3 separate regions of the Homo sapiens genome follow, and all the other regions are reported to be linked to region 3. The links are microRNA targets in miRTarBase. Many come from high-throughput screens and were not tested one by one. Region 3 holds a microRNA gene; each other region holds the end of a gene's coding sequence.
Evidence for each region. Region 3 holds the annotated microRNA hsa-miR-6125 (GCGGAAGGCGGAGCGGCGGA, at 1,284-1,303, opposite strand). A microRNA usually pairs through its seed, bases 2 to 8, with sites in the 3' UTR of a target mRNA and lowers its output. Matches are read on the target gene's strand: a 7mer-m8 pairs with bases 2 to 8, a 7mer-A1 pairs with bases 2 to 7 and ends in A, and an 8mer does both.

Region 1 (3,355 bases), not on the chromosome of region 3:
AAACTTCCCGTGATTAATTAGCTACAACTACACTAAGCAGTTCATCAAAATGTAGGGATTAGAAATGATGCTGAAAGGGCAAGAATAGGCCGGGGTGGCCTCTACCTGGGTCTAACTTGCTGTCTGACTCTCTCTCAGCTCCTGAACACCCGCACCAAGATGTCCTGCCAGCAGAACCAGCAGCAGTGCCAGCCCCCTCCCAAGTGCATCCCCAAGTGCCCTCCCAAGTGCCTCACCCCTAGATGCCCCCCAAAGTGTCCCCCTAAGTGTCCTCCAGTCTCTTCCTGCTGCAGTGTCAGCTCCGGAGGCTGCTGTGGCTCCAGCTCTGGGGGAAGCTGTGGCTCCAGCTCTGGGGGTTGCTGCAGTTCTGGGGGAGGTGGCTGCTGCCTGAGCCACCACAGGCGCCGTAGGTCCCACTGCCACAGACCCCAGAGCTCTGGCTGCTGCAGCCAGCCCTCCGGGGGCTCCAGCTGCTGTGGAGGAGGGAGTGGCCAGCACTCTGGAGGCTGCTGCTAAAGTGGATCCTGAGCCTAGAAGAACACAAATGGCCAAATATTTCCCTTCCGTCTTCCTTCTCCTTCTGGGCCTGCCCATGTTGTTGAGAGGTCTTGGTGAGGGCTCAACTCAAGCATAGAGGATTCTTCTGTCTTGGAGTTCAGAGGCCCAAAACTTCTCCCCCAAAGCCAAGCCATTTAATGACCTCAGTTTGCGTATGTGTGGTTGCTCTGGGAAGCCCAAAGCACAGACCTATATCCCTTTGCAGCTTGTCTTTTTGCATAGCTCAGCCTGATGTGAAACAATAAAACCAGAAATATGCATTCCTTTTTGCCTTGACTGATTGTTATTTTTTCATTGCTTTTCATACTCTGTCCTCATCTCCAGGCTCTCCCAAGATGTTAGTATCTACAGACCTTGTTCAAATTTAGCCAATCTTCCTACTAATATCCTTTATAACAAAAGACAATTTTGTTGGTTCAAAATCCAATCCAGGATCTCCATTGCCTTGACATAGTTGCCATGATTCTTCAGTCTCCTCCAAACCGAAATGGCTCTTCAGTCTTTCTTTGTCTTCCTTGACATTGACCTTTTTAAAGAACTATTGGTTTTGTAGAATGCCCCTCAATTTGGGTTTCTCTGATGTTTCTTCTTGACCAGGCTCAGATTACACATTTTTGCAAATATCCTACAAAAGTGATGTTGTCCTTAGAGCATGATATCAAGCCTTACATGATGTCTAATTGTCCCATTCCTGGAGATACAACTTTGACCACTTGATCTGCCAGCTTTCTCTATTGCAAATTTAATATTTATTCCTTTGAATTAAAAACTTATGAAGGAGAGAATAGTTAAACTTCTTTTTTGAGTTGGAGTCTCACTGTCGCTCAGGCTGCAGTGCAGTGGCACCATCTCGGCTCATTGCAACAACCACTTCCTGGGTTGAAGCATTTCTACTGCCTCAGCCTCCCAGGTAGCTGGGATTTCAGGTGTGTGCCACCACGCCCAGCTACTTTTTGTATTTTTAGTAGAGATGGGGTTTCACCATGTTGGCCAGGTTGGTCTTGAACTCCTGACTTCAAGTTATTTGCCCACCTCAGCCTTCCAAAGTGCTAGGATTACAGACGTGAGCCACAGCCCCCAGCCTAAACATCTATTTTGTTTCAAACATTTTCCCAAAACTTTTTTAGTATAATTGATGTTCTTTTACAAAACTGTTATTATTATTATAGTGTTGCTGGTATTGTTGAGTATAGTTTTTTAAAATATATTTATCTCATACCCTGAGTCTATGTACATATGTAAAGCAAAGAGAGGTGGTGAGGATGGGTCCTGAGCAAAATCAGCAATGTCCTGCAACACAACTACTTGAAGGAAGGCCATTACAATTTCTTCTTGTTGAACTCTTATTATATCTAATTTCCTGTGATGACCATCCTTATCCATTTATCTCTCCTACATTATAACTCTACTTTCAGGTAAATTCCTATAACACAATGTTTTTGTGTAAAAAGATTTGCTTATTATAAATTTAAACTCATTACACCTCAATAAGTATCAAATTGCTATCCAGAATTGTTATGCCAATTCACATTGCCATCTCAAAATATGTTTATTACCAACTGTCACATACTATTTTGTTAGTCATTAAAATAATTGTCATTTTGAAATAAGTAAATAAATCTGTTAGTCTCCTTTCTCAAATTCAAGATATTTCTTTTTTATTTTGTTTGCATTTGTTTGAATATCAGTAAAGTTGAACATGTTTTTTGAAATTTTTTTTGTTTGCTTGTTTTAAATGGAGTTTCACTCTTTTGCCCAGGCTGGAGTGAAGTGGCACAATCTCGGCTCACTGCAACCTCAGCCCCCTGGGTTCAAGCGATTCTCCCACCTCAGCGTCCCAAGTGGCTGGGATTACAGGTACCTGCCACCATGCCCTGCTAATTTTTGTATTTTTGGTAGAGATGGGGTTTCACCATGTTGGCCAGGCGGTTCTCGAACTCCTGACCTCAGGTGATCCACCCACCTCAGCCTCCCAAAGTGCTAGGATTACAGGTGTGAGCTACTGTGCCCAGCCTTTTTGAATTTTATTTGCCATTGTATTTGCAAAAATATGTACATATGTGATGGTTAATTTTATGTGTCAACTTGGCTAGGCTATGGTTCCTAGATCTTGCTCTAGCACCATTCACCAGTCTAAATGTTGTTGTGAACATGTTTTTTTTTTAGATGCGACTAATATTTAAATCAGCAGAGTTTGAGTAAAGCAGATTGCCCTCCATAATATGGGCAGGCCTCAACCAATCAGTCAAAGGTCTTAAGAGAAAAGACTGATATCCAGAGACGGAAAAAATATTCTGCCTCCAGGAACAAGGAATGCTTATACACTCTTGGTGGGAGTGTAAATTAGTTCTGCCATTGTGGAACACAGTGTGGCAATTTCTCAAAGACCAGCAATTACCATTCAACCCGGCCATCCCATTGCTATGTACATACCCAAAGAAACATAAACTATTCCATTATAAAAACACATGCACATGTATGTTCATTGCAACACTACTCACAATAGCAAAGACACGGAATCATCCTAAATGTCCATCAATGATAGACTGGATTAAGAAAATGTGGTGCCTATATACCATGGAATACTATGCAGCTGTAAAAAAGGATGAGATCATGTCCTTTGCAGGGACATGGATGGAGCTGGAGGCCATTATCCTTAGCAAACTAACACAGGAACAGAAAAACAAACACTGCATGTTCTCACTTATAAGTGGGAGCTAAATGATGAGAACACGTGGACACATAGAGGGCCTGTCAGAGGGTGGAGGGTGGGAGAAGGGAGAGGATCAGGAAAAAT
Region 2 (3,332 bases), not on the chromosome of region 3:
CATTTCCAAAATACATCTTCAATACCAAAAAATAATTTTTCTGATTATTTCTAAATATTCAAGTTAAGACCTCTATTAACAAAGCAGCTAAGTCCTAAGAATACTTGTTAGCTTGTTCACTCTAAGAGTCATAGAGTACTAATATACGACAAAGCTGTTTTTATTTTTACCTAACTTTTAATAAGCAATTCACTATATGCCAAGGCCTGGGTTAATTTGATGTACTGAATTAAAAATATTCTAGAATGTCAAAATCCCCCTTTAGTGACTTGGTGCTTTGGAAGGAAGGCCGTATTAGGGCATACTGTAAGACAGTATAGAATCTGCTGTAGTCCTTAGGCAGGAAGAGCTGGTTTCTGGTTATCTCCCACTAGGGAGACTGGGAACTCCCACCAGCTTAGCAACTGGCACAAACTAAGTCCACACACACAGCTCAGGACTTAGTTTCTCCTTCCCAAGGCAATCCCACCCACAATGAGCACCTGAAAAGGTGACAGAACCTACTTTCAAATATTATAGCCACCACTAATTACTGAGAAAAACTTCACCTTGAGAAGCTTTGTTCAATTACTATTCACTAACCCTGGTATTGGTTTTTTAGACTTTAGACTTATCTGATGCTGGTAGAGTTCCTCTGTGCTACGATGTTATTTTAAGAAAAAAACACAGATCACCTAGCTTCCAAATCATCCCAGACTGTTGACTCTAATGGTTCTTCTTCAGATGACAACAGTGACACTAGTGTAAACAAAATTATTTTACTTATTATATTCTTCTTTCTTGGAGGTAACTGAATTACTACATTAAGTATAGTAAAACATATTTTATGTTCCTTCATTTACTTTTTATTATCCTATGTGTAAGTTTTGCATAAGTGTGGGATATTTTATAACAGAACAAACCTAAGAAACATGTGTAACTCCAAAGTTATTTGATACCAATATATCTGTTTAGAAAAACTGACCGAAATATTTTGAATATAAATAGCACCCTAATTGTAACTGCTTAACAAGTTACAGTAGTAACATCCTCAGTTGTTAAATGCAAATTACTCTAAGTTTTTAAATACTTGAATGTATATCATTCTTCCCACCCAAGGCAAAAGCAGATATGCTGATATGCAGATATGCTGCTCTTTCTTCCCAGTAATATCAAGTTCTTTTTGTTAACTCACAAGGTAGTCTAAGATTAGTAAGAAATCTTTAGCAGACACAAAAGATGAAAGATGAAACTGCAGCAAGAGAGCATGGCAAATCCAAAAGATCTATTAGTGCATAAATCTACTGGAAAAAAAAAAAAAACAACAAGAACAAAAGAGATAGAATTAACAAGCTACAATAAAAGTTATGTCTTTAAAGCAGTAGATTATAACAGGGTGGGAAATGTTTAATATGTGTCCTCCTGAAAAGCAGTTACCATCTTTTAAATTAAAAAAAACCAGCTGGTATATTTTCACAGCATCTAGATTTATTTATGGTATAAAGCCATAGAATTGTAATATTATTACTCCTTTCCCACCCTGGCAGAGAATAAACATGAATTCAGAAGCACAGTGGAGTGAAAACAAAGAAGAGGAGAGAGAAAAGGCAGCAGAGAAAGACAGAAAAGGTGAATATAGAGCTACAGAAGTGTTTATTGAGCATGCTACAGGGGTAAGCAGAGTACACACAAAATGAAATTAAACAACCATCAAACCTCCCAACTTTGTTAGAAAATTAATTTTTAATTGTGCCGCTTTCAAACTATACTGAATTTTACATTTCTAAAGATGTAAAAACTCAACTAATAGAAAATATACATGACCATTCTGTCTACATAGATAACAGAATCTATGAATCTTGAAACTAAGTACATCAATTTCAAAAAGTATTGGTCATTTAAACAGAATCAACAATTCGGATTGACAAGAACTGTTCAAATTAATTTGACCTGTAGATTCTGAGCCATGTTTTTATTAAAGTCAGATCTATTCCTAAATACAAAATATTTTGAAGATTTATTAAAACTGAATATTACAATGCAAGGTAAATTAAGACTAAAGGCACATAAACTTTGGTCCCACCTGGTTGTCAGTTTTAGAAAACTGCCACAAAATTAATCTTCCTGCATATTTTCGCAGTACACTTTCTTTATCTTTGAAAAATACATGCACCAGTTCCTGAACTAGCTAGACCAGTCTGCACATGCTCAGAAATCCACAACCATATTCCAAATCTTAATTACAAACTAAGGATGGCAATATATATTTAAATGCACGTAAGTCATGTCAACTTCAAAAACATCTACGAAAAATATTCAGCCACAAACAAGACATTACTTAGTGCTGACATTTATATGATACGTCCCACAAGAGTGTGTACGAAAAGGTTAAGATTCCACAATGCTTTCCACATAGGGCTCAAACTTACAGAAATCACTTTGTTGTCTTAAGAAATTAATACTCTGCATCTTGTTAATTTTAACTAATGCCTACATTCATAACTGAATCTAGACCAGAATTGTGAGATACAAAAGGCCAATGTTGTTTTCAAAGCAATAAAGCCTAAGGTAGTAAAAACTAAAAATGCTGCTTTATTCTTTCAATATCATGTATCTTATTTGATTAAATAGAAAAAAAGGTGACAAGCCAGTAATTCAAAATAAGTTCCAAGCAGGAGAAACAAAAACTTAACCTTTTTACACACCCCTGCCTAAACATATTTTAATTCCCATATAACAGTGTGCCCTAAACAACCAATTCCTTTTTTCTAGTAAATGCACAATAGCAACACTAGTTTTCCTTTTTAAGGCACGTATGTCAACTAAGTTGAAAGGAAAAAAAAAAAAAAAAAAAAAGCAAAATTAAACTGAAATTTTAAACAGACAAAATGGCTTCCCTATAGAACAGATGAAATATAGCAGTTAACAACTCTGCCTTTACATATGCCATTTCATTTTATAACCAAGGAATGATAACAGCATGGAAAAAAAAAAGAAACCCCAAAAAAACAAAAACAAAAAAAATCAAACTCTGGTCCCCACTTTTCTGAACAGTCAAATAGGTGATGACATTGAACAATGTGATTCACCCCCAATCTTCATCTTCCCATTTTTAAATTGTTGACTTGGAGAAAGACACTCTCAGATGATGGTTTTCTCCAAGGTTATAATTATGAAGATCAATCAAGGCCTGAATAGCTTCTTCCACTGTTGCCATCTGAAGAAGAGCCATTTTGTGATCTCTTCTGAAACAAAATTATAAAATTAGACACTTCATACAAATTAGAAAGGGCTTATTAAATACTTGAATTTTGGCCATTCCGGAATCAAAAATTTCTATAAACGAAAAGAAC
Region 3 (3,000 bases):
TAAGAGGATAACTAAAATTTGATATCTCATAAATATGAAATTCTTAAGATATTAAAACGAATCAAGATAAAATCCTTATAATAAAATTACTGTCCATTTTACAGCATGAAGATAATGAGGTGCAATGATTTAAATTAACTCTCCTCAAAGCCATACTGCAAGTTGAGTGGTGAAACTGTGACATAACTCAGGTCTAAATCTTACTGTTCCTTTCACTATGCCATACTGAAACACTCTATGAATTATATACTACTGTTATGGTAACAGTGGAAAGTGAAAATATGTTTTATTATAATGAAGAGGCACATTATGCTTCCCAAAAAATAAGGAATTTTAAATTATGTTACATATTCACATATTTAAGTTATTGTAGATGCCACTTGATATGGTCGACAAGTGTGAAAATGTCCACATACATCCTTCAGTATTTTAAATGTATAACCTTTGGTATTTTACAAGTTTGAATATTAGCAGTTAGTTAAGCCTCAAGTGGACTTATCTACTTTTTGCAGGCCTACATTATCTTTCAAACAGAAGGGAAGGGCTGCACGTCTAACAGAAACGCTGCCGGCTTCTATCAAGCCACCACTAAAGCACAAGACCACGTGGTCTCTCATAAGCCCAAGGTTCCCTACTCCTCTCCCTCCTTTGACAAGGAACTGGAAACTAGGGTTTCTTTCTCTTATGTGGAGCCCTGACATGCCACCTGTGTAGTACAGACCGCAAACATCCTGCAGCCTGCCTCCCGGAAGACCAAGAATCAGAATAAAAGGGAACTTGGACGCCGACAATTCTAGGAAAGGAAATGAACAGAGAAGTAAAGCCGGTGAGATCGTGATAAGCCGCGGCACCGGGACCTGTCAAAACGGCGTATATAAGACTCAAACCAAACCACTATAACCTATCATTCGGGAAGGCCTGAGGTGGGAGCGGCACTACGGAAGGAAGGAGGACGAAGAGAACCGCACGAGTCAGAACCGCCGCCGCCGCCGCTCCCCGGATACCTTTCAGCATGCCCTGGCAAGCCAAGAACCCTGACCCTCATCTAGAGTCCAACCTTTGCCCCAACATTTCAGAAGCGGCCAAAATCCCGCTGCCCCGGCGGCCGCCGCCGGACCTGCCCGCACCTGTCACTAGCGAAAGAACCAGCTCGCGGCTCCCGCCCACTTCTCCACTATCCTCGGGCAACCGCGGGCATCTCAACCCCTTTCTCTTACCAGGTGTCCCCTTTCCGGAGCGAGGTTTTGAGCAGCGTCGCGATGTCAGACCGCTGGGTGTCCAGATCCGCCGCTCCGCCTTCCGCCATCTTCTTCCACTAGCGGTAGGGGAGGTGGCAGCGACGGCGGCGGCACGCCCCAGAGCATTATGGGAATGGCGTCCCACGGCCCCTCCCAGTCGGCCGGTCGAAACCAAAAGACACCGGGAGCGGGGGTGCTCCTCGGGACAAGAGGAGGCCCCGGGGGCGCACTGGGTGCGCGGCCATGGTCTGCTGCCCCCCATCGGTCCCCGCCCGTCCAGCATCTTGCCTTGGCCTCCTCTGGCCCGGGACTGCCGGGTTTTAGCTTTCCTCGCCGCCGAGGGCTCTGGCTCTCTCTCGCTAGAGGGATGCCACCGCCCTGTCCTCCCGTCCTCAGCGTTGCCTTCCCCTCCCTCTTTCCCACTGACGCCTTGAAAACCCTTATTTGCGCATTCACTCACGCTTGAGGGTGAGGTAGGGTGGGGCGGTGGTGTGGGGGCGTGGGGACGGCTAAGATATGGCAGAAAATGTAGCAGCTCAGTGACTGGGCTTTTCGTTACGAGTGGGAGAACCCAAGCTCGGTGAATATGGGCACACACAAAAAACACTCCGAAACCGAACGCTTGGTCTCCATGCCCTTCCTGGGTTCCTTCCAGCGCTCTTACTCCCGTTGTAGGTGGGGACCCTTTATAGGCTCTTTGTGACGCCTCCCCAGGCACACCCAGACGACTAAGCTGCAGTGAAAAACATGTCCCAGTTCATCGGTGAACAGGGAGTAGAATATGGACAGTATTGAATAATGCCAGATACTAAAGGAAGAAAACGTGCGAGAAACCCTCTTGTTTATACAGGATAGTAACATTTTCTTAGCCCCATCTTCGTATGGTGCCGTACACCTGAAATGAAACTAGATATGTCTTTAATTTGAAGTCAACGATTATGTTACAAAATAGAAAATCGAGTCGCTTAAAAATCAAATGCCAAGGTCACACAGCAGGTGGAGAGGTGAGTGGAGAGGCTGGTTCAAGAGCCCACATGCTATACAGTATAGCACACTCACTGCCTCTCCTTCTGAAAGCCTGAACTAAAATGTAAACTCTTTAAGAGCTGGAACTGGGTTCATCTTTTGTTTTAGCCTTTGTACACCTGGTGGTTAGCACAGTACTGATGGACATGTAAAAATTACCTAAATATTTGTTTAGTAAATGAATTGTGGCAAAATTACTTAAGTATTCCCGAGCATGATGTCCAGGGGTGTGATTTTAACATACCATATTGATGTGAAAAGTCTAAAAGATGGGCCGGAATCCCCACATCATTTCTCGTTTGCCCATTTTAAACCCTAACTCATTTGGTGAGAATGCGATAAAGGTAGGTGTAGTTATGCTAGTAGGAAGTGCTGAATCCAAGTGAAAGTAGTGTATATTGGCATTATGATTTGTGTATATCAGTATTATGATTATGATTGCTTATTTCTGCGTAATAATACTATTTTGCATTATCATGCCAACCTTGAATTGAGAGTTTTAAAACAACTTTCAGTGACTGCTATTTCTGGCTTTTCTCCTGACAGGTTAAAAGATTAAGAGTTTCTCTAACCACGGCTACCCTCTAAAAGTCACATTTTCCCCCTTTTTCCAGTCACTCTCTGAAAGAGAACAAAGTAATTTTCTGAAGGGAAGCTGCAGAATATGGAAAACATATATTGGAGCTACATGGATGTAAGTTCAAACCTCACTTCAACCTTTAGCTGCAAAGTTCTT

Region 1: the mRNA of LCE1B is a reported target of hsa-miR-6125. Seed matches in the 3' UTR shown: 7mer-m8 at 560-566.
Region 2: miRTarBase lists PTBP2 as a target of hsa-miR-6125. The part of its 3' UTR that is shown has no 7-base or 8-base seed match.

What each region holds. Positions count from the first base shown.
Region 1 is chr1:152,812,288-152,815,642 of GRCh38, forward strand. LCE1B (late cornified envelope 1B) reads left to right here. Exons shown (of 1, transcript NM_178349.2): 1 at 1-821. The coding sequence starts at 160. The coding sequence ends at 516. Among named protein-coding and RNA genes, the nearest start is that of LCE1B, 2.0 kb to the left of the region's middle.
Region 2 is chr1:96,813,165-96,816,496 of GRCh38, reverse strand. It overlaps PTBP2 (polypyrimidine tract binding protein 2), which reads right to left. Exons shown (of 14, transcript NM_021190.4): 14 at 1,448-3,221. The coding sequence ends at 3,092. Among named protein-coding and RNA genes, the nearest start is that of PTBP2, 93 kb to the right of the region's middle.
Region 3 is chr12:62,258,721-62,261,720 of GRCh38, reverse strand. It overlaps MIR6125 (microRNA 6125), which reads right to left and starts at 1,362; the gene lies at 1,267-1,362. It overlaps USP15 (ubiquitin specific peptidase 15), which reads right to left and starts at 1,317. Exons shown (of 22, transcript NM_001252078.2): 1 at 1,218-1,317. The coding sequence starts at 1,306. It also overlaps a transcript of TAFA2 not described here. RefSeq lists enhancers at 1-88, 812-861, 1,082-1,441, 1,992-2,061 and silencers at 1,482-1,591, 1,672-1,731.